Linked DNA regions of Homo sapiens. The protein of the gene in region 3 interacts with the protein of the main gene of each other region in a pairwise test. Each region holds a gene or a part of one and is shown on either strand. Other genes may lie near its edges.

The links.
Region 1: the proteins of BMP2K (region 3) and GJD3 interact in a two-hybrid assay, tested with the Homo sapiens proteins (one large-scale study listed by IntAct).
Region 2: the proteins of BMP2K (region 3) and RABL2A interact in a two-hybrid assay, tested with the Homo sapiens proteins (one large-scale study listed by IntAct).
Region 4: the proteins of BMP2K (region 3) and DAZAP1 interact in a two-hybrid assay, tested with the Homo sapiens proteins (one large-scale study listed by IntAct).
Region 5: the proteins of BMP2K (region 3) and LYZL4 interact in a two-hybrid assay, tested with the Homo sapiens proteins (one large-scale study listed by IntAct).
Region 6: the proteins of BMP2K (region 3) and NECAB1 interact in a two-hybrid assay, tested with the Homo sapiens proteins (one large-scale study listed by IntAct).
Region 7: the proteins of BMP2K (region 3) and SCGB1C1 interact in a two-hybrid assay, tested with the Homo sapiens proteins (one large-scale study listed by IntAct).

Annotation. Positions count from the first base shown.
Region 1 is NC_000017.11:40,361,938-40,366,158, reverse strand, and holds the start of GJD3 (gap junction delta-3 protein), read left to right. Parts: upstream 1-1,421; 5' UTR 1,422-2,343; coding exon 2,344-3,228; 3' UTR 3,229-4,221. UniProt on the Homo sapiens protein: One gap junction consists of a cluster of closely packed pairs of transmembrane channels, the connexons, through which materials of low MW diffuse from one cell to a neighboring cell.
Region 2 is NC_000002.12:113,637,266-113,640,578, reverse strand, and holds part of RABL2A (rab-like protein 2A), read right to left. Parts: intron 3,281-3,313; exon of another isoform or gene 1-3,280. UniProt on the Homo sapiens protein: Plays an essential role in male fertility, sperm intra-flagellar transport, and tail assembly.
Region 3 is NC_000004.12:78,873,850-78,877,349, reverse strand, and holds part of BMP2K (BMP-2-inducible protein kinase), read right to left. Parts: intron 1-3,500. UniProt on the Homo sapiens protein: May be involved in osteoblast differentiation.
Region 4 is NC_000019.10:1,421,086-1,424,585, reverse strand, and holds part of DAZAP1 (DAZ-associated protein 1), read right to left. Parts: intron 3,439-3,500; coding exon 3,328-3,438; intron 2,239-3,327; coding exon 2,190-2,238; intron 1,167-2,189; coding exon of another isoform or gene 1,075-1,166; exon of another isoform or gene 876-1,074; intron 1-875. UniProt on the Homo sapiens protein: RNA-binding protein, which may be required during spermatogenesis.
Region 5 is NC_000003.12:42,400,611-42,404,110, forward strand, and holds part of LYZL4 (lysozyme-like protein 4 precursor), read right to left. Parts: coding exon 3,436-3,500; intron 1-3,435. UniProt on the Homo sapiens protein: May be involved in fertilization. Has no detectable bacteriolytic and lysozyme activities in vitro.
Region 6 is NC_000008.11:90,952,275-90,955,774, reverse strand, and holds part of NECAB1 (N-terminal EF-hand calcium-binding protein 1), read right to left. Parts: intron 1,832-3,500; exon of another isoform or gene 1,789-1,831; intron 289-1,788; coding exon 263-288; coding exon of another isoform or gene 207-262; 3' UTR 1-206.
Region 7 is NC_000011.10:191,775-195,075, reverse strand, and holds SCGB1C1 (secretoglobin family 1C member 1 precursor), read right to left. Parts: upstream 1,977-3,301; coding exon 1,922-1,976; intron 1,365-1,921; coding exon 1,165-1,364; intron 659-1,164; coding exon 626-658; 3' UTR 501-625; downstream 1-500.

The DNA.
Region 1 (4,221 bases), on a different chromosome or scaffold from region 3:
TCCTATTTTTCACATTATAAAATAACATGAGGCCGGGCGCGGTGACTCAAGCCTGTAATCCCAGCACTTTGGGAGGCCGAGGCAGGTGGATCACCTGAGGTCAGGATTTCGAGACCAGCCTGACCAACATGGAGAGATCCTGTCTCTATTAAAAATACAAAATTAGCTGGGCATGGTGGCACATGCCTGTAATCCCAGCTATTCAGGAGGCTGAGGCAGGAGAATCGCTTGAACCCGGGAGGAGGAGGTTGCGGTGAGCTGAGATCACACCACTGCACTCCAGCCTGGGCAACAAGAGCAAAACTCTGTCTCAATAAATAAATAAATAAATAAATAATAAAATAACATGTTAGGCCGGGTGTGGTAGCTCACGCCTGTAATCCCGGCACTTTGGGAGGCTGAGATAGGCGGATTGTTTGAGGTCAAGAGTTCGAGATCAGCCTGGTCAACATGGCGAAACCCCACCTCTACTAAAAATACAAAAATTAGCCGGGCGTGGTGGCGCACACCTGTAATCCCAGCTACTGGGGAGGCTGAGGCAGGAGAATCGCTTGAACCCGGGAGGCGGAGGTTGCATTCAGCCAAGATCATGCCACTGCACTCCAGCCTGGGCGACAGAGCTAGACTCCATCTCAAAACAAACAAATTAAAAATAAATAAATAAATAACATGTTCATTATAGTAAAGCTGGAAATAACAGAAAAGTGGGAAGGAAACCAAAGATTTTATTTAACTATCAAAGCCAGGCACTTGGGATATTTTAATGGTTTTCCATATGGGATTTTTTTTTTTTTTTTTTTTTTTGCAGGCACAAGGGTTTTTTTGGTTCTCTGTAATATGGTTGGGAATTCAATATTAAGAAGTAGAGAATCCCAGCTACTCAGGAGGCTAAGGTGTGAGGATCACTTGAAGCCAGGAGTTCAAGATCGACCTGGGCTATGTAGAGAGACCCCGTTCCAAAAAAGATGTAAAGCTGGAAGGAAACTTGGGGGTCAGCTGGACTGGCCGCCTTTGTTGACAAGGCAGGAAAGCCTGGCTCAGTACCGCCGAATGATTTGTCCAAGGTGAGCGGTGGCAGAGCTGGAACCAGAAGCTGTTAGATGTTTGCTGCCCCTTAAACTCCAGCACCAAACCTCCCTCTGTCCCCGAAGACCATCTTCACAGGGCATGGTTAGTGCGTAGTGGATCTAGGCTCCAGACTGAGGGTCTGTCTGGGAAGGGCTTCTAGGAATCCCCCAGCTTCCTCGATAAAGGATGTGGCTCTGGTTACCCCCCTCCCCCATTTCCAGATGGAAATTTAGCTAAAGAGTGAGGGCCACAGAGCCCAGCAAGGGGCGTGGTCCGTGCCTGTTCCCAAGGGCGGAGCCAGCCAGCAGGGTCACCCTGTTCCTTTAAGAGAAGGGGGAGCGCTAGCCCCTCTCAGCCATCCTGTCCTGTCCTCCATCCTGGCCAAATCCGAAAGGGAAAATGAAAGAGGGAGCAGGAGGCGCCGGTCCCAGCCACCTCCCAAGGTCCCTGGCTCAGCTCTGACACCCCAGTCCCGGCCCCAGGGTGAGTGGGGTTGGGTGGCGGTTTAGGGGCACCAGGGGCGTGTGGGGACCTGTGTAAGTGTGGGGTGGGGAGGATCTCAGGAGATGTGGAGGCTGGAGGCACAGGAGGCCAGGGAGGAGGGAGAAGCCTGGCGTCGCACTCCCACCACGCTGGGGTAGGAGGGCAGGGACACCTCCGACAAAGGACCCTGTGAGAGTTATGAAAGCGGAGTTGCCTCTGTACCAGCCCCCCACCCTGAGAGGAGTTCACTGCAGTAAAAATGGTGAGAGAAATGGTGGGCCAAGAAAGGAGTGGTCTCGCTGCCTCTGCCACTCCCACTCCTCCCATGGGCACCAAATTGGGTCTAGCGTCTCGGGTTCGAGGCTCCACTCTTCCCACAGCATCCTTGACAGCTAAGGGCACCGCTGGGTTTCCGCTTCCGAAACCAGGCAAGTCAGGGGCTGGTCCAGCTGATCTCCAAGGTCCTTCCTAAGAATCTGGGATCTGGAGGATCCCAGGGTCGAACGGAGACGGCTCAGGGGGTGCGGCTAAAATGCAAATGGGGGATCCTCCCCAGCACCCATCGGTCCCAAAGAGAAGGTAACCCATAGCTGAGCGTCGCCTGCTCCCCTCGGGCCCTCCCGTGGCCCTCCGTTTCATACTGGTCTCATCGCTAAACCCGGGCCTCTCCTACCTCACGACTCACCCTGAAGTCAGAGAAGGTCCAACGGACCCCACCCCGATAGGCTTGGAAGGGGCAGGGGTCCCTGACTTGCCCCATCCCCTGACTCCCCGCCCCGCGTCCCCAGCGCCATGGGGGAGTGGGCGTTCCTGGGCTCGCTGCTGGACGCCGTGCAGCTGCAGTCGCCGCTCGTGGGCCGCCTCTGGCTGGTGGTCATGCTGATCTTCCGCATCCTGGTGCTGGCCACGGTGGGCGGCGCCGTGTTCGAGGACGAGCAAGAGGAGTTCGTGTGCAACACGCTGCAGCCGGGCTGTCGCCAGACCTGCTACGACCGCGCCTTCCCGGTCTCCCACTACCGCTTCTGGCTCTTCCACATCCTGCTGCTCTCGGCGCCCCCGGTGCTGTTCGTCGTCTACTCCATGCACCGGGCAGGCAAGGAGGCGGGCGGCGCTGAGGCGGCGGCGCAGTGCGCCCCCGGACTGCCCGAGGCCCAGTGCGCGCCGTGCGCCCTGCGCGCCCGCCGCGCGCGCCGCTGCTACCTGCTGAGCGTGGCGCTGCGCCTGCTGGCCGAGCTGACCTTCCTGGGCGGCCAGGCGCTGCTCTACGGCTTCCGCGTGGCCCCGCACTTCGCGTGCGCCGGTCCGCCCTGCCCGCACACGGTCGACTGCTTCGTGAGCCGGCCCACCGAGAAGACCGTCTTCGTGCTCTTCTATTTCGCGGTGGGGCTGCTGTCGGCGCTGCTCAGCGTAGCCGAGCTGGGCCACCTGCTCTGGAAGGGCCGCCCGCGCGCCGGGGAGCGTGACAACCGCTGCAACCGTGCACACGAAGAGGCGCAGAAGCTGCTCCCGCCGCCGCCGCCGCCACCTCCGCCACCGGCCCTGCCCTCCCGGCGCCCCGGCCCCGAGCCGTGCGCCCCGCCGGCCTATGCGCACCCGGCGCCGGCCAGCCTCCGCGAGTGCGGCAGCGGCCGCGGCAAGGCGTCACCGGCCACCGGCCGCCGAGATCTGGCCATCTAGGGGCGGGCACCGCCTCGCGCGGACTGGACGGCGAGGGCCGGACCCCGCCACCTCCGCCCGCACCGCAGAAGCCGGAAGCTGCTTCCACCAGAGCTGTCGCGGGACCTGCCCCGGCAGGAGACGCGTTGTGGGGACGGCCCGCGGGCGGCATCGCACTTGCCTCGTACTGCCTCCCAGTGGCTGCCGGCGGCACCTGGGGCAGGCCGGGCTGGGGGCGGAGAATGAACTCAGGCAGGTCCTGGATGCCACCACCCAGGTGGAAAGGAAGGAGACCAGGACCCTGAGAGAGAGTGGACCCGAGGGGGAGAACAGAGCGGAAGGTGGAGAGTGGTTGTTTTACTGGGGACAAAAACAACTGTGATGCCAGCATTCTCAGGCACTCTCTGTGTTCAGAGAGAGAGTGGTCCCCCTGTGGGCTCTCTGCGAGTGTGCATACACGGACACATAAGCACTGTGAGCTGTGTGCACGCGCACCTGTACACCCTGTGTGAGCGCTGTGCATGTGCGCGCATGTGTACACCCTGCGTGAGGCCCACTTGTGCACACAGACACACGTAACCCTCCCGGGTGAGCTGTGTGCACATGCACACAGAAACATATGCCCCTTGAGAGCTGTGTACTCACATCCCTGTGAGCTTTGTGTGAGTGCATTGTGCACACACGCACATGTCCATTCTGTGTGGGCTGCGTGTGCACACCTGTACACAGAAACATCCTTGTGCGCTATGTGTGCATGTGTACATCCGGCGTGACCTCTGTGTGTGCACGCGTGTGTGTGTGATCTCTGATATGCACTGCGGGGGTGGCCAGGATCCGATGCCAGCTGCAGCCACAATGGCTCCCTCCCTACCACCCTAACCCAGCCCACCTGCCAGGGCATCACAGGAGGTCTGTCCCCCCCTCCCAAGAGACCCCGCCCAGGGAGGGAAGAGGAGGAGAGGCTCCCTTTCCCCGGGCAGGCCTCAATCCTCGGGAGCCTATGAGCAACATCCT
Region 2 (3,313 bases), on a different chromosome or scaffold from region 3:
ATGGTGAAATTCCGTCTCTACTAAAAATGCAAAAAATTAGCTGGGCGTGGTGGCGCATGCCGGTAATCTCAGCTACTTGGGAGGCTGAGGCAGGAGAATTGCTTGAACTAGGGAGACAGAGGTTGCAGTGAGCCCAGATCATGCCATTGCACTCCAGCCTGGGCAACAAGAGCAAAACTCTGTCTGAAATAAACAAATAAATAACGTATTCCTTTTTTGTTATCTTGTCATCTAATCTTATTCACCTATTTTAACAATCATAAATGGAATCAATTTGCCAATTGATGCAGTCTGTTAGAAATTGTAAAAACTTTTGTGTTTTTTAGTCCTCTTGTATTTATTGCTTAAACTGTTTTAAAGTTCCTCTGTAGTAACTGTAAATGTTTCTAGAGTTTTACTTTAGTTACTATTTACTTTTATTTATTTACTTTTTAGAGACAGGGTTTCACTGTCACCCAGGCTAGAATGCAGTGGCTCAATCACAGCTCACTGTAACCTCAAAACTCCTGGGCTCAAGGAATCCTCCTACCTCAGCCTCCCAAGTAGCACGCACGCATTAATTTTTATTTTTTTATTATTTTTTTTTTTGTAGAGGCAGGCTCTCCCTATGTTACCCAGGCTCATCTCAAACTCTTGGCCTGAAGGGATCCTCCCACCTGGGCCTCTAAAGGTGCTGGGGTTACAGGTGTTAGCCATCACAACTGCCCGATTTTTTTTTTTTTTTAGACGGAGTCTCACTCTGTTACCCAGGCTGGAGTGTGGTGGCATAATCTCAGCTCACTGCAACCTTTGCCTTCTGTGTTCAAGTGATTCTCTTGTCTCAGCCTCCTCAGTAGCTGGGACTACAGGTGTGCGCCACCATGCCTGGCTAATTTTTTTATTTTTAGTAGAGACAGGGTTTTGCCGTGTTGGCCAGGCTGGTCTCGAACTCTTGATCTCAAGGGATCTCCATATATGGAGTCTTGCTCTGTTGCCCAGGCTGGAGTGCAGTGGCGCTATCTTGGCTCACTGCCACTGCAACCTCCACTTCCTAGGTTCAAGCGATTCTCTTGTCTCAGCCTCCGGAGTAGCTGGGATTACAGGTGCGCACCACCATGCCTGGCTAATTTTTGTAGTTTTAGTAGAGACAGGGTTTCATCATGTTGGCCAGGCTGGTCTCAAACTCTTGACCTGCAGTAATCTGCCTGCCTAGGCCTCCCAAAGTACTGGGATTACAGGCATGAGCTACTGCACCTGGCTGATTTACTTTTAAGCTTTTGTTTACTTCTTTGTTCTTTCTGCTTTTTGTTTTTTGAGATAGGGTCTTACTCTGTCAGCCAGGCTGGAGTGCAGTGGCAGAATCTTGGCTTACTGCTCCTCCACCCCCTGGGCTCCAGTGATCCTCCTACCTCAGCCTCCTGAGTAGCTGGAACTACAGGCACATGCCACCATGCCTGGCTAATTTTGTTTATTTTTTGTAGAGATGATAAGCTCTCATTATATTAACGAGGCTGGTCTTGGACTCCCGGGCTCAAGTGATCCTCCTGCCTCGGCCTCCCAAATTTCTGGGATTACAGGCATAAGCCACTGTGCCCGGCCTCTTTAAATTTTTTTAAAGTAATTTTTATGTTTTATTATTTGCAGTTCATAATTGTATTACTTTATAATTTGTTTTTACCTATTTTATTTTTATTTATTTATTTATTTTGAGATGGAGTCTTGCTCTGTTGCCCAGGCTAGAGTGCAGTGGCGGTATCTTGGCTCACTGCCACTGCAACCTCCACCTCCTGGGTTCAAACGATTCTCCTGTCTTCAAACGATTCTCCTGTCTCAGCCTCCTGAGTAGCTGGATTACAGGTGCGCGCCACCACGCCTGGCTAATTTTTGTATTTCTAGTAGAGACGGGGTTTCAACATGTTGGTCAGGCTGGTCTCGAACTCCTGACCTCAGGTGATCTGCCCACCTAGGCCTCCCAAAGTACTGGGATTAAAGGCATGAGTCACCGCGCCCAGCCTGTTTCTACCTATTTTAAAATATCAGCAAGAAGGATGAGCACTGCAAACCAGCTCTAAGGGCAGAACTCTGAAAGACAACTGAGCTGCTGCTACAGTGAGCCTTCATGCCCTTCACAGGAGCTCCTCCAAAGTGTCTAGCCCAAACTGCCCTAGTACAACAGTCAGTGGATTAAAGTTACAGACAACCACCACCCTGTAACTGCTGGCACAGCTGACCTCACTTCTAAATCACCCAGCTATTTGTGCAAGCAACATGGTTCAAGCTCAGGGCTAGGGGCTCGCCCTGTGTGGTGGCGGGAGGGTCAGCAACTGTCACATCTCAAGAGGTGGCAGGAAGTCTATGTAGATTCTCTTTCACAGGCAAATTTCAATGAATCACCAGGTTGTCTTGAATTCCCGATGAAGTCTCCTTATAAAGGATGTCTGTAACTAAACTTCTGGAATCTGCCTCACACCAGGCTCAGATGACTTTTGTCCAGATCTGGTTTCCTGAGCATCTGTTCCTTGTTTTGAGAGCTGAGGAGGAACTGGCTAGAATGAGGAGCATCCCCATCTCAAGGTTTCAAGGTGGAGGGTCGAGCCCTGGTTCCGTCTCTGACCCTCAGCTCCCCGTGTGGTCAGAAGGCAAGTGCTTTCTACTTGCCAGGGCCCGTGCAGCAGACTGGGGCTGGTGGCAGGCACCTGCAGACACAGGCATGGTGGCAGGAGAGACACCCCAGGCCTTCAGAAGAGGGTCTGAGGGGAGCCCACGGAGATGCAGCAGATGCAGGAAGCAGTCACTCCAAGAGAAAAAGAGAGGTGAGCTCAAAATACCAAATGCCACTGTAGGCCTGAAACCAAACTGGCTAGGACCAAGCTCCTCTGCTCTTGAGGGTCAGACTTCTGCACTACACTGCCCCCATTTTCCTTGCCCCATTATCCTCTTGTTTAGTACCTTAACAGTTATCAGAGTTAAAGCTTTTGGAATTTTTCAAGGGATTTTGTTCTTAACGGGCAGTCGGGGGAATTAGGTGACGAGTTCCTTCCTTTACCATCTGCAAAGGGTCAGAAGGGAAGAATCCTCACTGTCCTCACCACTGGTATCTGTACTGTGCCTACCAGTCAGTCAGTTCCTGGGGGCAGCACGTGTGTCTTTCCACCTGGGCATTCCCAGCATCCTGCACACGTGCATCACAGACAGTCCATGTTGTGGAAGGGATCAGTGGTGCAGGAGCACACACGGAAGAGCTAAGCTAATGACAAACATCAGAGGAGGCTGCACGGAGGTGGTGGCATTGAAGCAGGGCCTGAAAAATGAGCAGAGTTTCAAATAAAGGGGT
Region 3 (3,500 bases):
TTGTACATGTTTGTGTTTTGTGTTATAACCAAAGAGTCAAAATGTTTTTAAATTTTCAAAGTTTATAAAGTAAAAAAGTCACAGTAAACTAAGGTTAATTTATTATTGAAGAAGAAAAAAATTTTATATAAATTTAGTGTGTTCTAAGAATGCAGTGTTTATAAAGTCAAGTCTATAATAGTGTACAGTAATGTCCTAGGCCTTCACGTTCACTCACGACTCACTCATTGACCCACCCAGAAAAACTTCCAGTCCTCTAAGCTCCATTCATGGTAAGTGCCCTATACAGATGTACCATTTTTAATCCTTTATACAATATTTTTATTTTACCTTTTCTATGTTTAGATACAAAAATACTTACCATTCTGTTACAATTGTCTATAGTACTAAATATAGTAACATGCTATACAGGTTTGTAGCGTAAGAGCAATAAGCTATATAATAAAGCCTAGATGTGTAGTAGGCTATACCATCTAAGTTTGTGTAAATGCACTCTATGATGTTCATACAACAATAAAATTGCCTAATGATGCAATTTCTTAGAACATGTCCCCATTGTTATGCAATGCATGACTGTATAGCATAAGAACGAGACAATGTAAGAAAGCTATTAAGTTCCTTTCATAATTCATATGCAAATCCTCTTAACAGTAGTAATGAAGGGAGAATCCTAATGTTCAAAGTAGTATCTCAATTTCACAAGTCTTAACTGATCCCCTAAATTTACCTAACCGTTGAGAGCTCATTGCCATTGCCACCAAACAGGTCTTAGAAGAGAAAAGAAAGGCAAAAGTCGTCTATTTAATCCCTTAGTCCAAGCCCCTTCAGCATATCTGAGCCAAGAATAGGATACTTAAATACTTACTGAAGGCTAGCATATAACAGAGGAAAATAAATAGTAAGTTACCTACAAGTAAATAGACTTGCTTAGTAAATAGAACTTAGGTATCTTAATTTAAAAAACAATTCAGTTTAAAGTCCATTCTGGATGCATTAACTGCCAGTCTGAGCCTGCCTCTGTGTGACAGAGTCCCATCTCTCCTTAAAACACAGATCAGATGTTTTTACCCAGAAAATTGAAGGAAAAAAAAAAACAGATCACAGTGGGTAAAACTCAAAGAGAGATGGGCATCCCCCCTCCTGTCTGTCAATCATTCCTTTTAGAACTTTCGGATTCCCTATATGAATCACCCTCTTCCTATTCCCAAAATAAATTTATGGATTCCTATTGGCAGACTGTAACTCAATAGGGTTATCACCTTAACCTAGTTTAAACAGGTATTAAAAAATGTCTACAAGTTATCTGACATTCCTCCCTTCGAAGGGTGAAACCGAATTTCACTGCCCTTGAACATGAGCTAGATCTAGTGACTCAATTCTAACAAATGAAATATGGCACAAGCAGCAGCCCATGACTGCTGAGACTAGGTCTAAAAAGACATTTCAGATTCCTCCTTGCTCTGTCTCTTGGATCACTTATTGAGGGAGAAACCAGAATCAATAATTCCTTGTTCAAAATAATTTTTGCCTTGGCAAAGAGAAAACTCAAGCAGTCTTTTGAAGAAATCCATGTGGCAGGGGACTGAAGCCTCCTGCCCAAAGCCATGTGAGTGAACTATCTTGTAAATTACATCCTTTATCACCAGCCAAGCCTTCAGAGGACAGCCGACCCAGCCTTACCAGACACAACCACCCTGTTAAGCCACCCCTAAATTTCTGATCCAAAGAAAGTATGTAAGATAATAAATGTTAACTGCTGTTTTAAACCATTAAGTTTTGAGATAATTTATTAGGCATCAACAGATAACTAATATAACAGGGCAATTATATCATAAGAAGATAACGTATGCATAGATGATGTTTATTTTAACTATTATTGGAATATAACACAGTAATACTCTCTGATATTCATACTAAAGATAAATTAACATGGTGGAAGAGTAGAAAGTTTAGCAAAAGATAGTAGAAAAGAAAAGGAAATAATTATTCCAACAAAGATAGTGACTCTTTCCCTCTGTCTAAGGAACTACTACTTGGTTTCTTATATTCTACTCAAATAGCCCTTATCCACTGAGAGACAAACATTTAACCCCAATTCTCTTCTTCCACTGACTTTGTCATAAGCAGGAACATTAGTTTAGAGCTCTTTTTAAATTGTTACAGAAGATACTATACTCAACATACAATCTGATGTTAAATAGGTATAATATTAATGAAGTAGCATTGACGTACCAAGTGTGGCTGGAGCAATGTTCCCACATGAAGTTCCACATTTCTAACCTTTAGTGGCTGAGTGTATAATTTTTTCTAACACATCCTTAAATACATAAATTTCATAGGAGTGGAGTAAAACAAGTCTTATGCACTTTCCCAGATATGCAACCCAATATTTCCTAACCTGGGGAATGCAAGATGATTTTTGTGATAACTTATTTTTTAATAGTTACACAGAAATTAAAAGAAAAGTGTCTAATGTATCAAACCTGTGATTTGTCGAATAGCATCACTACAAATGAGAATAAAGCAGACAGTGCTATAGTAATTAATATACATTACAGGCATCAGCACCTTGCATGCCAGTGTATGCCTCAAATCCTTGGATATCCAACTTTCTTTTTAACTAATCAGAAGTTTAGACAGATTTCCAATTCATCATCCCATTCTCAACAGTGACATAACTTTGCTTCCAGGAGCTGACAGACTTTTAGAATATGAAGTATACACAATATATATGCTACGTCAGAGAAGACAGTTAATATCTTTTCTATTTTCCAACTAAATAAACTAGATTTGACATTTTTTATGCTAGTTAGCATCAAAAGTGGAAAAAAGCAATCATCTAATTAGTACAATAGCCTCATCAGTATCTTTAAGCAATTATCAAGCAGAATATCTGATTTTTAATGAGGAAAATTATTCCATTCTTATCACTAGGGGACTTAGCAAATTTATTAGATTACTATTTACATTTCATACTTTATATTTTAGTGGATCTTATTTGTTTAAAATGTATAATATGTTTTAATTTTATTATACACAATAATGTTACTAATTTATTAAAGAAAAAAGCACTATGTGAATAAAGCAAAAAATTTTAACTAGAGTAGATAAATGACAAAGAGTTCGGCAAATACTGATCTGAACTTTTTGTGTGTGTGTGTGTGTGTGTGTGTGAGATGGAGTCTCGCTCTGTTGCCAGGCTGGAGTGCAGTGGCATGATCTCAGCTCGCTGCAATCTCTGCCTCCCAAGTTCAAGCCATTCTCCTGCCTCAGCCTCCCAAGTAGCTGGGATTACAGGCGCGCACCACCACACCTAGATAATTTTTATATTTTTAGTAGAGATGAGGTTTCACCATGTTGGCTAGGATGGTCTTGATCTCCTGACCTCGTGATCCGCCTGCCCTGGTCACCCAAAGTGCTTGGATTACAGGCATGAGCCACCGCACCCTGCCTGATCTGGACCTTTAAACTGGCCTTTGACCTATACTCTGCTCTCTCCT
Region 4 (3,500 bases), on a different chromosome or scaffold from region 3:
AAGCTGAAGAGACAGGGGCCAGGGCTGCTGTAGCTGGGACCAGGCAGAAACAGGACAAGCAAAACTGGGGGCGGGGAAAGATGGAAACGGGGCAGAAAGGGCAGCTCAGACTGTGAGGGGACAAAGGTCACTGTGGTTCAGGAGCCTCCCACCGTCCTGAGCACACGTGTGCACCTGAGCGTGACTGTGCACGCAGTGTCTGCAACCAGACGGAGGGGGAGGGGGGAGGGGGAGGGGGAGGAGGAGGGGGAGGGGGAAGAGGAGGAGGAAGAGGAGGAGGGACCAGGAAGGCAAGGCACACAGCGAGAGGAGCGCAGGATGGAGAAGACCTGAGGGGACTGAGAGGCGAACGAGGCAGCGGCTGGAGCGGGCGGGCCGAGGGTAGACGTGGGAGGGCCAAGCAGGGACCCGCACAGACACTGTGTGCCCGAGACACAGGCGGGGTCCCTGACAGGGACATGGCCATGACCTTCAGTCAGTGGAGAGGAAGAGGGAGGAGGTGGCGGGGAGGGGGACACAGACCCGTCTCAGAAGATGCAGAAAGGCCAAGGGAAGGGGACACACTCTCTGGGAGGACCCGCTAAGCAGCGCCGCAGCGTCTCTCCGGCCCTCCACTCGCCTGACACCCAAGGGACACTTTCAAAGCCCAACAGCTAAGGACATGTGGCCACGTGCTGGCCCCGAAGTGCTCTGTACACCAGTGTGGACTCAGCGACACTCGCCACGTCCCGTCCACACGGGACAGGACAGGACGCGAGGAGAAGGGGCGCCAGCTCTGGGCAGCCGGAGGGGGACCGGGAGGATCTAGAAGCAACCCTCAGATTCCCGCGCGCTCAAGTTTCCCAAGATCAGAGGCAGTATTGGAACACAGCATCGGTGATGAAACAACGTATTTAGAAGTAGACATTTTCGCAAACTGCAGGAGTGTCTGAAACCACAGGGCTCGCCTGGTCCGGGCACAGTGCAAGAGGCGCTGGGTCCTGGGGGAGGCGCCCTGAGCGCTGTCTAGGAATGCGGCTGTCAAGAGGCGACATCACCACTGAGGAAGCGGGACAGAAACACCTGAAACTTCGTTTACACCCCACTGGAGCAAAGCCGCTCCCTCCTCTGACTGCGGGACTGGCCTGTACCTGTGTGATATAATTTAGCACCTGGAGAAGAGAAATCTAAAGAGATATCGTTAATCACACACAATTCACAGAGAGAAAAGGAAAAACAGCTTACTTAACATCACTGTACTTTACTATGAAACACTTAAGTACGTCACTAAGCATGTATGTCTAAATTAAGTTACGACTAAGACTTAACAGCGTAACCGACATGGAGGAGGAGCACTCCTAACCGTGGGGAGGGAGGTTCAAATGGCAAACTATGCTCCAGCATGGTGGGCATGCTGCGGCGCCACCTGGCGCTCGGGGCTGCCCCGACTGACCTGGGCCGGTGGTGCGGGGGCGGCACGGACGTGGCGGGCAGACCCAGGCTGCAGGTCTGCTCACGTGGCCGGCCAAAAGCAGCTGATGAACCAAAACCATGCGGGCGGGCGGGACAGACAGCAGCAGCCACGGAAAAGGGGCACAGAAACTGGGCGCCCATCGTCCCAGCTCCACAAACCAGCATGGATGGGTGTGCAAGAAGCTGAGGGAAAATGAGGGGAGGCCCTGAGGTGACTCCTCACCCCTCCTCCCACCTGCCCTGCTGACTTCAGAGAGGGGAGAAAACTGAAAAAAAAGAAAAAGAAAAGAAAAGGAAAAAAGAAAGAAAGAAAAAAAAAGCATGGGATGGATCACGGAAAATCCAAACTCCACACCGAGCCAGCTGACCCAGCTGACGACACGAAATGAGACCGGCCACACTGGGAGGACTGGATGAGGGTGAAGGAAGGTCAAATGCAGAAGGACCACACTCTTCCGGACAGTGAAAAACAGAAGCCAGGCCGAGACTCATGACAAGTCGTAAAAACTTCAAAAGAACAAGCCAAAAAACAATGTGTGACGTCTGACCTCGGGAAGCACAGACAGGCTGAATGGGGTGCACATGAGGAGCCCACGTTTTAGTCATTTGTCTCCAAATCGTCCCTTCCTGAGGCTGTTTGCTACAGCCGCCACCTGTGTGTGCCTGGCGGGTGAGATAGTTTGCCATCTGAGGGAGGAGCAGGGAGAAGGCCGAGGTCAAACTAGATCTGCCCTTACCTCGGGGCCTCTGCTTCTCGGCGTCATAGATCATGACTACCTCCGTGACCTGGAAGGAGAGGGTGGCGTCAGCACGGACACCAGGGCCAGCACCACAGGTGGTCTTCCGAGGGCACAGCCTGTTCCCACGAACCCAAACTCTCGCACAGGGTGCGCCCTCCCTGAGCGGGGGAGGTGCACGGGCAACAGCTGCTCCGTGGGGCTGCTGTCTGAGAAAGGCTGGAGCCCCAACACTCCCAGGGCCAGACGCAGGCAGGGAGAAGCAGCTCCAGGGCAGGCGTCTGGATACCCGCCTCCGGGCTGCCCGTGGCCCCGCTCACGTGTGTGCTGACGGACATGAAGGGCCAACAACGCCGACCACGCATCCTAGCAGGGGACGTGGGAGCCAGGAGACCCCACAGAAGCCCTTCCCACCCAAACGCGGGAAGCAAAGGGCACGCTCGGCCCTCACTCGAAGTGGCGGGGCAGCCACACACAGCTCCTCTGCAGACCCTGCTCTTCCAGGCCCCGCTCAGGCCTCTCATTCCTGGCCCAGGCCCGTGGCACCCTCAGGTACCACCTGATGAACGTGCGCAGTACTCAGGCACGCAGGGCTGTCCTGCTGGCGGGGCTCGGAGTGTGACCTGCGGGGCACGGCAGGAGTCCCAGCAGGACCTTGGGGTGACCACACGCCCCTGCCTTGGGTGACTAGGAGGGCTCCCCGCCGGCCCCCTCCGGCTGTCCCAGCTCCCTCTGGCACTGGGCTCAACGGAGCTCGGGCATTCTCCCACCTGCCCAGTGGAAAGTCAGCTCTGTGGGGCTGGCTCGCCCAGGCCACACTGAACCCCGTTTCTGTGTAACTGCCCTTCTCTGACACTGGACCCCACGGTGTTCACAATGGAATCGGGCGGCCGCCCTGAAGGCTGTCAGGCTGGTTCACCGCCCAACCACCCTACTGGGACACGAAATGGCCATGAAGGCAAAGGCCGGGCTTTCCACCTTTCCGGAGGGCGCAGGCGTTGGGGAAATACGAGACAGCGAGCTCCCAGCCTGAAAGGCCCGTGCACCTGTGGCTCGGCCACTCCAGCCCCAAGAAGGCCCAGGCCTGAGCAGAAGCGGCTCTGTCCCCACAGTGCTGCCGGGGTGGGGAGAAACTCACCACTCCGAACTTCTTGAAGTATTCCCTGAGCTCTGTCTCACCACAATTGTGAGGAATTCCACCGACAAATATCTTATTTGATTTACTGTTATCGCTCCTGGGTCCTTTCTGCTGTTGAAGAAGGGAAGGATAGTTAGTTCACACGGGAACCCTCCAAACCCTCCCGCGAGCTG
Region 5 (3,500 bases), on a different chromosome or scaffold from region 3:
AGCTTTGGGGGCATAATACATTGGTTACAAAATAAAGCCTAGTTTCAGAAATACTAAGATCTGAAAAATTGTGCCATCTGGGACTTAGGAAATATGACACTCTTTCTAGATCTATCTGGAGATTACAATGTCCAGAATCAACCAGGCAGGTAATTATAAAATGTGGGACGGGGGGAGAAAAGGTAGGGGAAGAAGGAAGTTTGTGGTGGTGCAGAGTTCACTGGGTAGTGTAGGCCTGCCATCATAAACAGCGTGGATGGAGATGGTAGCAGTGTAAGCTGGAAATGGAGGATTTTCATGCACTCCATTGGTTCAGCATATCAGAAAGACACTCACACCAGCAAAATCTACAAACTGGAAACTAGGCCAAGAGATGTGCACACCAATCTACCCCCAAGTAGACGTCAGAGAAAAGGGTCTGGCCATAATCCAAGTAACAGTGAACAGAGACAAGAAAAAGCCACACAACCTGTCCATTTAGCAAATACTGAATATGGGTAACTCTGTCCTTATTCAAGGAAGGGTAAAGAGGATAAAGCTAACACGGGACCTATGCGGAAATATCACAAAAAGAAAAGGGGGCATCATAATAAAATTTCTTTATTAATATTTTTTTTTGAGACAGAGTCTCGCTCTGTTGCCCAGGCTGGAGTACAGTCACACAATCTTAGCTCACTGGAACCTCCACCTCCCAGGTTCAAGCGATTCTCCTACATCAGCCTCCCGAGTGGCTGGGATTACAGACACATGCCACCACGCCCGGCTAATTTTTGCATTTTTTTTTTAGTAGAGATGGGGTTTCGCCATGTTGGCTAGGCTGGTCTTGAACTCCTGACCTCAGGTGATGCACCCACCTCAGCCTCCCAAAGTGCTGGGGATTATAGGCATGAGCCACCGCTCCCAGCACATCATAATAAAATTTATTATGAAAATAACATACTGCAGGATCCAGAAGTAAATTTTATAAAACTGACATCCTCAATAAGATGTCACCAGATATGACCTTTGGAAAAGTCATGGGAGTTAAGAGAGATTAAAAAAAGACAATAGTTTGAATTTTTAAGTCAGGTGGATAAGCTAACACAGAATTGCAAAAAAATAAAGGTAACCAAAATTCAACACCCATTCATGATTTAAAAAAAAACTTTAACAAACTAGAGATGGAAAGGAACACAATCTGATTAAGAGTATCTCCAGAAATTTAAAACATCAGATGTAATGACACAATATTAAACTTCTTTACCTATGAGACTAGAAATGAGACAAGGCTGCCACTATTGTCACTTCTATTCAACCTTCACTGGAGATCCTAGCCAATGCAACAGGGAAAGAAAAAGAAAGAAAGGATATTGCAGAGCCAAATGTGAAAGATAAAACAATAAAGCTTTTAGGAAAAAAAGGAGAATATCCTCAAGACCAAGGAATAGGCAGATATTTGTTAAAATAACCATAAAGGGAAAGCAATAATAAATTAGACTACATTGTGACTAAGAACTTCTGTTTATCAAGACACTCTTGAGAAGGTTAAAAAAAAAAAAAAAAAAAAAGAGCCAGGCATGGTGACATGTGCCTGTTGTCCTCACTACTCGGGAGGCTGAGGCAGGAGGATCACTTGAGCCCAGGAGTTCCAGGCTACAGTGAGCTATGATAATGCCACTGCACTCTAGCCAGGGTGACAGAGCAAGGCCCCATTTCTTTTCTTTTCTTTCTTTTTTTTTTTTTGAGATGTCTCTTATAAAAAAAAGATAGAAAGGTAACTCACAGAATGAAAGATAGTTGCAATACATATATCCAACAAAAAAACTTTATCCAGAATATATAAATATCTCCTACAAATTAATAAGAAAAAGACAGCACAATAGAAAAATTGACAAAAGATTTGAAGAGGCACTTCACCAAAGGGGATACATAAATGGCCAATAAACATTTGAAACCTCATCAGGGAAATGCAGAGTAAAACCATAATGCAATACCACAACACAGTCATGAGAATAAACTGGAAATTACCAAGCGTGGTTGAGAATGTGAAGCAACTGAAATGCATAATTTCTGATGGCAGTGTACATTGATAAAAATCTCTTTAGAAAACTGTTTGACACAATATGCCAAATCTGAAAATATGCTTATCCTATGACTAGCAATTTTATTCCTCAGTAAAAACAACAGAAATCCTTTTACATATTCACCAAAAGTTAAGTATAGACTGTCCATGGCAGCACTAAAAATGAAGAAACTACCAAATGCCCACAAATAGAGGAATGCATAAGTAACCTGCGGTGAATCCACACAATGGAATACTGTATAGCAATGAGAATGAATCACAACCACACACAAAAACATAAGCAAATGCAACACTCAGTGAAAGAAGTCAGACATAGGCCAACCACTTGTAAATTTTAGACTCTTCTAAGCAAATATCTGGCTAAAGAGGAAACTAGATTTGCATTTATTTTGGCAATAAATATACAAAAATCAGTTAATGTACCAAATACACAAAGAGCTCTTTCAAATAATATAACTTGAATTTTAAAATAGGCAAAGAGCAAAGAAGAAAAAAATTACAAAACAATAGTAATATATAACAAACATGGGGGGAAACACCCGAATGGGATATGATAAAAGACAAAAGAAGATAAGACAAAATTATTATCCACCTTTTTTTTTTTTGAGATGGAGTCTCACTCTTTTGCCCAGGCTGGAATGCAATGGTGTGATCTTAGCTCACTACAACCTCTGCCTTGTGTGTTCAAGCGATTCTCCTGTCTCAGCCTCCCGAGTTGCTGGGACTACAGGCACACACCACCACACCCGACTTATTTTATTTTATTTATTTATTTATTTTTTTAGTAGAGACGAGGTTTTGCCATGTTGGTCAGACTGGTTTCGAACTCCTGACCTCAGGTGATCCAACTACCTCAGCCTCCCAAAGTGCTAGGATTACAGGTGTGAGCCACCATGCCCAGCCAGTTATTCACCTTTAAATCGCAAAAATGTTGTGATTGGTGAAGGTGCAGTAAATCTACATTTTACTAAACCTTTTGTAGAAATATAAACAAATATGGGCCTGCTGGATTTCACAACATGCATCAAGAACCTTAAACGTATTCAAAAACCTTGTAGGAACTTAAAGGATAGAAATAATCAGAGATTATCATAATAAACACAGATTTAGTTTGAAGATGTTCATCCTAGCTTTCTATATAACCCTAAACAAGATTTGGGGGAAAAAAAGTACAATTCAAGGCAATTTCTCTGATAATTATTTCCTTCCCTCTGTGGCCTTGAGGTTGTGGTTTTCTGCTACTTACCTTGGTGAGTCAGAGCCTTTTAGTTTTGGCACTGCACGTGCGCAACAGCCAAGATTTAGCCAAGATTCAGATTAGAGATCATGAGTGAAAGTCGTTAATACAGGCTACATAAAAATGTAAGACTTACCATGCTCCCATCCCTTCTTTTCCTTTTACAATGGTCTTGGCACATTTAATTGTCTTCTCTAAATT
Region 6 (3,500 bases), on a different chromosome or scaffold from region 3:
GTCACTAAAAGGTTTTAGGTGAGTTACAATGTAGCAAAGCATTTAGCATTAAATATTGAGAATATTAGTGAACTTTGAAAATTGAGCTAAAATTCACATGAATTGATAAAGTTATAGAATAAGTTTTGAAAGAGTGCACTTAGTAAATATACCAAACAAAAATATACAGTAGATTAACAACCGCAGATAATTTTCTAATTGACGTTTTAGATAAGAACACCTGTTTTGCACTTGGAACCATAAAGAAAATGTCTAGGAACATCTAGTTGTTCAGGATCCACCACGAAGCTGAAAAGAGAAAAATGTTTTCTAAAATAATGAAAATAACTTATAGGGCAAAGAACATTCAAGGTGCAAATTATTTCTAAAGAGACCATTCCCCTTACCTTTAGTCTGCATAATAACTTATCTTTCTAGTCACCATTTCCTGACTATTTGAGGCAAGATTGAACTCTTCCTATGCACTTGTTATTTGTACCATACCTTTTGGCACTTTGTTGCAGTCTAAAATTTTCTGTTCTATGTGAATAGAACTTGTTTTGGCAACAAGTTTATAAATGCACTGAAGACAGAATCATGCTATTGTTCTTATTAGAATCTACCCAACACTGGCAGTAGTTAGGCCATATATATATATATATATATATATATATATATATATAATTTATATACCCAATATTTATGAAATCCTATATGTAGAAATACCATATATTTATACATATGTACATACATGCACCTGCATTTATATATGTATATACATATATGCATATGTGTACATATACATACATATATGTACACACATAATATATACATATAATATGTATACATGTATGTATACATATAATACATATGCATTTGTATACACATACATATATGCATATGCATACACATAATATACATATATGCATATGTATACATATATTTATAAATATATGCAGCTTATGTATAATATATAATATACATATAAATACATGTGTGATTTATTATACATATATTTATACCTATATGATATTTATAAATACCATATATTTATACACATAGGATCTCATAAATATTGGGTATAAGCAAGTAGGTTATAAATAATATTTTAGTATATCTGTATGTTAAAATTATAAATGTTTATCCCAGTGAATATAGATATCCTGAAAACAAACCAATGGCAAAGATGTATGATTGGTGGAATGCTGTAAGAAACAGATAAATGGAAAGGATTGAAATTTGCTTTCAAAACTGTTCAAGTAATTTGCTGGCAATAGGATCTTTTTTTTTGTATCCTGTTTTCCCATAACCGTAGGTTTTTCTGTTATTACCAATGGACATTCTGCTCCACAGACCAAGTTTATATACTCCTTTTGTCTGGGTGGTTTGGGCTGCCATATTCCAGTATGCTTCATTTGAATGATTTTATACTTGAGAGGTCATTGGAATATATTATAGTGTATATTTTCATATCTGGATGCAATCTGGCTTAGTTGCTTAATTACTTTAGATGTATCTTAGGTAAACCACTTAGTAGTCTTAACCATAAAAAGCAATCTTACCAGAAATCATAATTTGTGAGTAAAATTAGAAATACAAACTTATTCATACTGCATTTTTAAATGTAATATCTGCTTTTTTTCTTTCAGATTTTAATTTTAGGTATAAATATGTGCAGCTATTTATTTATTTATTTATTTATTTATTTATTTATTTATTTATTTATTTTGAGACAGTCTCGTTCTGTCACCCAGGCTGGAGTGCACTGGCACGAACTCAGTTCACTGCAACCTCTGCCTCCCAGGTTCAAGTGAGTCTCCTGCATCAGCCTACCAAGTAGCTGGGATTACAGGTATGCACCACCATGCCTGGCTAATTTTTTGTATTTTTTAGTAAAGAGAGGATTTCACCATATTGGCCACTGGTCTCGATCTCCTGTCCTCAGGTCATCTGCCCACCTTCGCCTCCCAAAGTGCTGGGATTACAGGCGTGAGCCATAGCGCCCAGCTAATTATTTTTATTTTTAATCTTCATAACCATTATAACACAAAATGTACAAAACTGGTTTTTAAAAATAGTGTTAGAAGTTATATGGCCATTAAAACCCATAAATAATATTTATATGCTAGCTTCTGCTTACTGGAATAGGCCTGCTGTCACAGTGATAAAACTTTAAAATAAGGTGGGATGTCCCAATAAATGTCAAAATGTTGTAGGTTTTAAAATTGTGTCAAAAATCAAGCCTAACTTTTCCTCTTGTTCTACGAAATTCCAGTAATCATTGTTGAAATTAAATGTAACATGAAATTAATACAAAATAGGGCAGCAATTAAAAGACATTAAATTGTATTGAGCCTGGATTCACAGAACAAGAATTGATCCAGTTTTATCTGTAGTCAGTTTTTCTTTCTAAATTAGGAAATGCTCTGAGAGAGAAAGAGTAATATATGTGCCAATGACACTAGTAGTGTCTAGAAAATAATTCCAGATAATGATAAAGTTGGGTCAGAAAACTATCAGATTAGTCCACATTTTCAATTCTTGCTATAGCATTTTCCCCCTCACTGATAATTCAGTAGCCTCCTGTTCTATCCTCTTTTCCTACTCTATTTTTGATCAGGTTGTTTCTGTCCTGGAAAGACTCAAGACACTAATAAGAACAAGCTTTGTTCCTTTCTTTCCACATTGGTTTGGGAGAGATGGAAATGGGTGTGATGACAGACACAAAAATTACAAGTGTCAGGACTTCGTGGAAATTTTGACCGAAGACCAATATATTTATGATGATGCCAAAGTCCTATTCATTCCTTCATTTAGGAAATAATTTCTTCTTGCCATATACTGTACTATAGTAATACTGTAATAGGGTAGGGAATGTGAAGATAAATAAAATGTGGATCTCACTTTCCTGCATTCTATGTACAAAGCTTGCAGCAGTCATATTTACAGAAGTTGTATTCTAAGATTTTTCTCCCTATTTTATTTTATTTTATTTTAATTTTATTATTATTGTTTTTTGACATGGAGTCTCGCTCTGTCGCCCAGTCTGGAGTGCAGTGGTGCGATCTTGGCTCACTGCAACCCTCCGCCTCCTGGGTTCAAGCAATTCTCCTGCCTCAGCCTCCTGAGCAGCTAGGATTACAGGCATGCCCCACCATGCCCAGCTACTTTTTGTATTTTTAGTAGAGGTGGGGTTTCACCATGTTGGTCAGGCTGGTTTCGAGCTCCTGGCCTTGTGATCCGCCCACCTCAGCCTCCCAAAGTGCTGGGATTACAGGCGTGAGCCACCGCGCCCAGCCTTCCTCCCATTTATAACATCATAACACTATACATCCCCCACTCATCCCCAGGAGCACTGTATCTTTGCATTTTACTCTTTTGGTTTCCTTGATACTCCACTGCTTAAAGAAAGGCATCTCCCCAAGCTTCTCTTAGATATTTTGTTCTTACCTACATACTTTCTTACCAATCCCAGGCTTCAACAATCATCTTGCTGTGGTTAACTCCTGAAAATTACATCT
Region 7 (3,301 bases), on a different chromosome or scaffold from region 3:
TGCCTGTGGTGTGCCTGCTCCTGTGTGGACCCTGTGTGTACCTCTGTGGGGACTTTCACACGTGTGTTCCTTGAGTGGGATCCTCTGTATGTGGGTCTGTGTGTGTGGCTGTGGCCCTGTGTTCCTGATGTCCCCATTTGTGTGTACCTCTGTGGGGACTTTCACACGTGTGTTCCTTGAGTGGGATCCTCTGTATGTGGGTCTGTGTGTGTGGCTGTGGCCCTGTGTTCCTGATGTCCCCATTTGTGTGTCCCTCTGTGGGGGACTTTCGCACGTGTGCTCCTTGAGTAGGATCCTCTGTATGTGGGTCTGTGTGTGTGGCTGTGGCCCTGTGTTCCTGATGTCCCCATTTGTGTGTCCCTCTGTGGGGACTTTCGCACGTGTGCTCCTTGAGTGGGATCCTCTGTATGTGGGTCTGTGTGTGTGGCTGTGGCCCCGAGTGTGTTCCTGATGTCCCCATTTGTGTGCCCCTCTGTGGGGGCAGAGACAGGAGCCTGAGCTGCGGAAGAGGCTTTATTGATTAAACGGTTTGAGGATACATTTCCATGTGGGAGGTGGTAGTGGGCGTTGTGTCCACGGCTGCTTGTGTGGCAGGTCCTATGGCTGAGCCATGTCTGAGGTCCACTTAGGCACCGTCCTGACTGCCCAGCACTTGCACCTGGAAGGCAGACACATGTGGACTAAGAGGGCTGTGCTCAATAAGTGGAGAGCCACAGCTCCATCAGGCAAGCAAGGCCCTCAGTGGGGGGGGGTCTGGCATATTGCTGCCTATCTCCTCCCAGCAGCTGGGAGGTGTGTGTGCACATGTGATGGTGTGCACACATGTATGTGTGTGCATATCCCAGTGTGAGCATGTGGGTGTGAACGTGTTTATACATGTGTGCACGCAGTGTACATTTCATGTCTGCACCTGTGTTTGGATCTCTGTGTATGTTCACATGTGTGCATGGAGGAGTATCCCACAGACTGGGGAGGAGGTCTATGGAGTCTGGGGGCTGCTCGGTGGACAGGAGGTCTGGGGTGTCCACCTGAGCTGGCTGATGCGGGTGCAATGTCTGTGGGTGGTGGATGTCTGTGGGTGGGGTAGGCTGTGTGGGTGCTGTGTTGGGTGGTCTTGGTAAGGCTGCAGATCTTTAGAAAATGGGGTGCCCGCCGCCCTCATACCAGCAGCTTGACCAGCTCCGCCTTGTGCATTGGCTGCAGGCCATCTATACAGGACTTGAGTTCAGTCATTGCTGCCTTGGCATCTTCGTTGACATTGTACTTGCCCAAGGTCCCCTCATAGAGCTCCTCTGGGGTCCCCACCAGTAGTGTTTGCAGGAAGTCCATGAAAAACTCATCGTTGTCCTCCCCTGTGGCCATCCCTGCATCACGAGCGAGATGATGCCAGGACAGGACAGGGTGACTCTGGTGCAACCACAGCCCTGGACCTGCCCCAGGGCTCCAACCTCCATGGTCTCCAGACCTTCCCCTTCAATGCCCACCTCTCCTCCCCAGGGCTTCCTCCACAACACCTCCAACTCCACCTTGCCCGAAGACCCCTCCACATCCCCCTTAATCTTAGCTGCTCCAATTTCCACTCAGCATTCCCTGGGATCACCAGGGAAGGAAAGTTAAGCTCCTGGTGTGGGGGAAATTTCCCCTGATGAGAGGCTATTATGACCAGAGGCTTGAAGGGTCAGGTCAGGCTGGACTGGGCTGGGGTAGGAGACACTGGGCTGGTGTTGGGTCAGCTGGGCTTTGTCCTTGGTTGGGGTGGAGTAGGGTGGGCGCGGGTTCTGCAGGGTCCTTGCCCACTTCTGTGACAGAAGCAGGTGGAGTGTTCACTGCAGAGGCCCGATGCCAGGATTTTACCTTCTCAGGTACCCCCCACTCCCCCCCACCCCTGAATGTTCTGGAAACCCCAGTGGCACAGACTCACGGCAGATGCAGAACAGGGTGAGGGCCACCAGCAGGAGGGCACGGCTCCCCTTCATGCCAGCAGTCTCAGGAGCTGCCTCCAGCCAGAATCCCGGGATTTTATGCCTCACCGGACAGCACCTCTCCTAGAGGGCGGACCGGACCTGCCCATTAGGACCCGGCAGCCAGCTTAGATGAGGTTTGTTCACATCCCTGGCCCCCAGTGGGTGCCAAGCAGCAACAGGCATGGAGTGGCTGTGTGACAGGTGGTTGGCAAGCGGCTTTAGGGTGTGTGAGAGAGAGAACAGGTGTGTTAGGAGGGAACACTGGTGAGAGGCCATGCCAACTGATCGGTGAAGAAGGCAGTGGGTCCTGGCCACCAAGGGCCTCTAGTCATGCCTGCCCTTGAGGCCGAGAGTGGTGGGATCTGGGGTTGGTCCCACGCCTTTCTTTTAAGGTGCGAATCCCTCCTCTTATCAGTGTGCTGTGTGATCTGGGTCTGCATCTGGGGGTCTCCAATCAGGCAGGGGCCCCTTACTACTCAGATGGGGTGGCCGAGTAGGGGAAGGGGGTGCAGGCTGCACGAGTGGACACAGCTGTAGGACTACCTGGGGGCTGTGGATCTATGGGGTGGGGAGAAGCCCAGTGACAGTGCCTAGAAGAGAGAAGGTGGCCTGAGAGGGTCTGAGGAACATAGAGCTGGCCATGTTGGGGCCAGGTCTCAGCAGGAAGTGAGGAATGGGACAGGCTTGAGGTACATCTTCCATCAGTAGCCAGGATAGCAAGGAGGGCTTGGGGTTGCTATCCTGGGGTTCAACCCCCCAGGTTGAAGGCCCTGGGGGAGATGGTCCCAGGACATATTACAATGGACACAGGAGGTTGGGACACCTGGAGTCACCAAACAAAACCATGCCAAGAGAGACCATGAGTAGGGGTGTCCCAGTCCAGCCCTCTGACTGAGCTGCATTGTTCAAATCCAAAGGGCCCCTGCTGCCACCTAGTGGCTGATGGCATCCACATGGCCCTGGGCCACACGCGTTTAGGGTCTCTGTGAAGACCAAGATCCTTGTTACATTGAACGACTCCTAAATGAGCAGAGATTTCCACCTATTCGAAACAATCACATAAAATCCCATCCTGGAAAAAGCCTGGGGGATGGCACTAAGGCTAGGGATAGGGTGGGATGAAGATTATAGTTACAGTAAGGGGTTTAGGGTTAGGGATCAACGTTGGTTAGGAGTCAGGGATACAGTAGGGTCACCGGTAAGGGTTAGGGGTTAGGGGTAGGGGTTAGGGTTAGGGTTAGGGTTAGGGGTTAGGGGTTAGGGTTAGGGTTAGGGTTAGGGTTAGGGGTTAGGGGTTAGGGTTAGGGTTAGGTTTTGGGGTGGCGTATTTTGGTCTT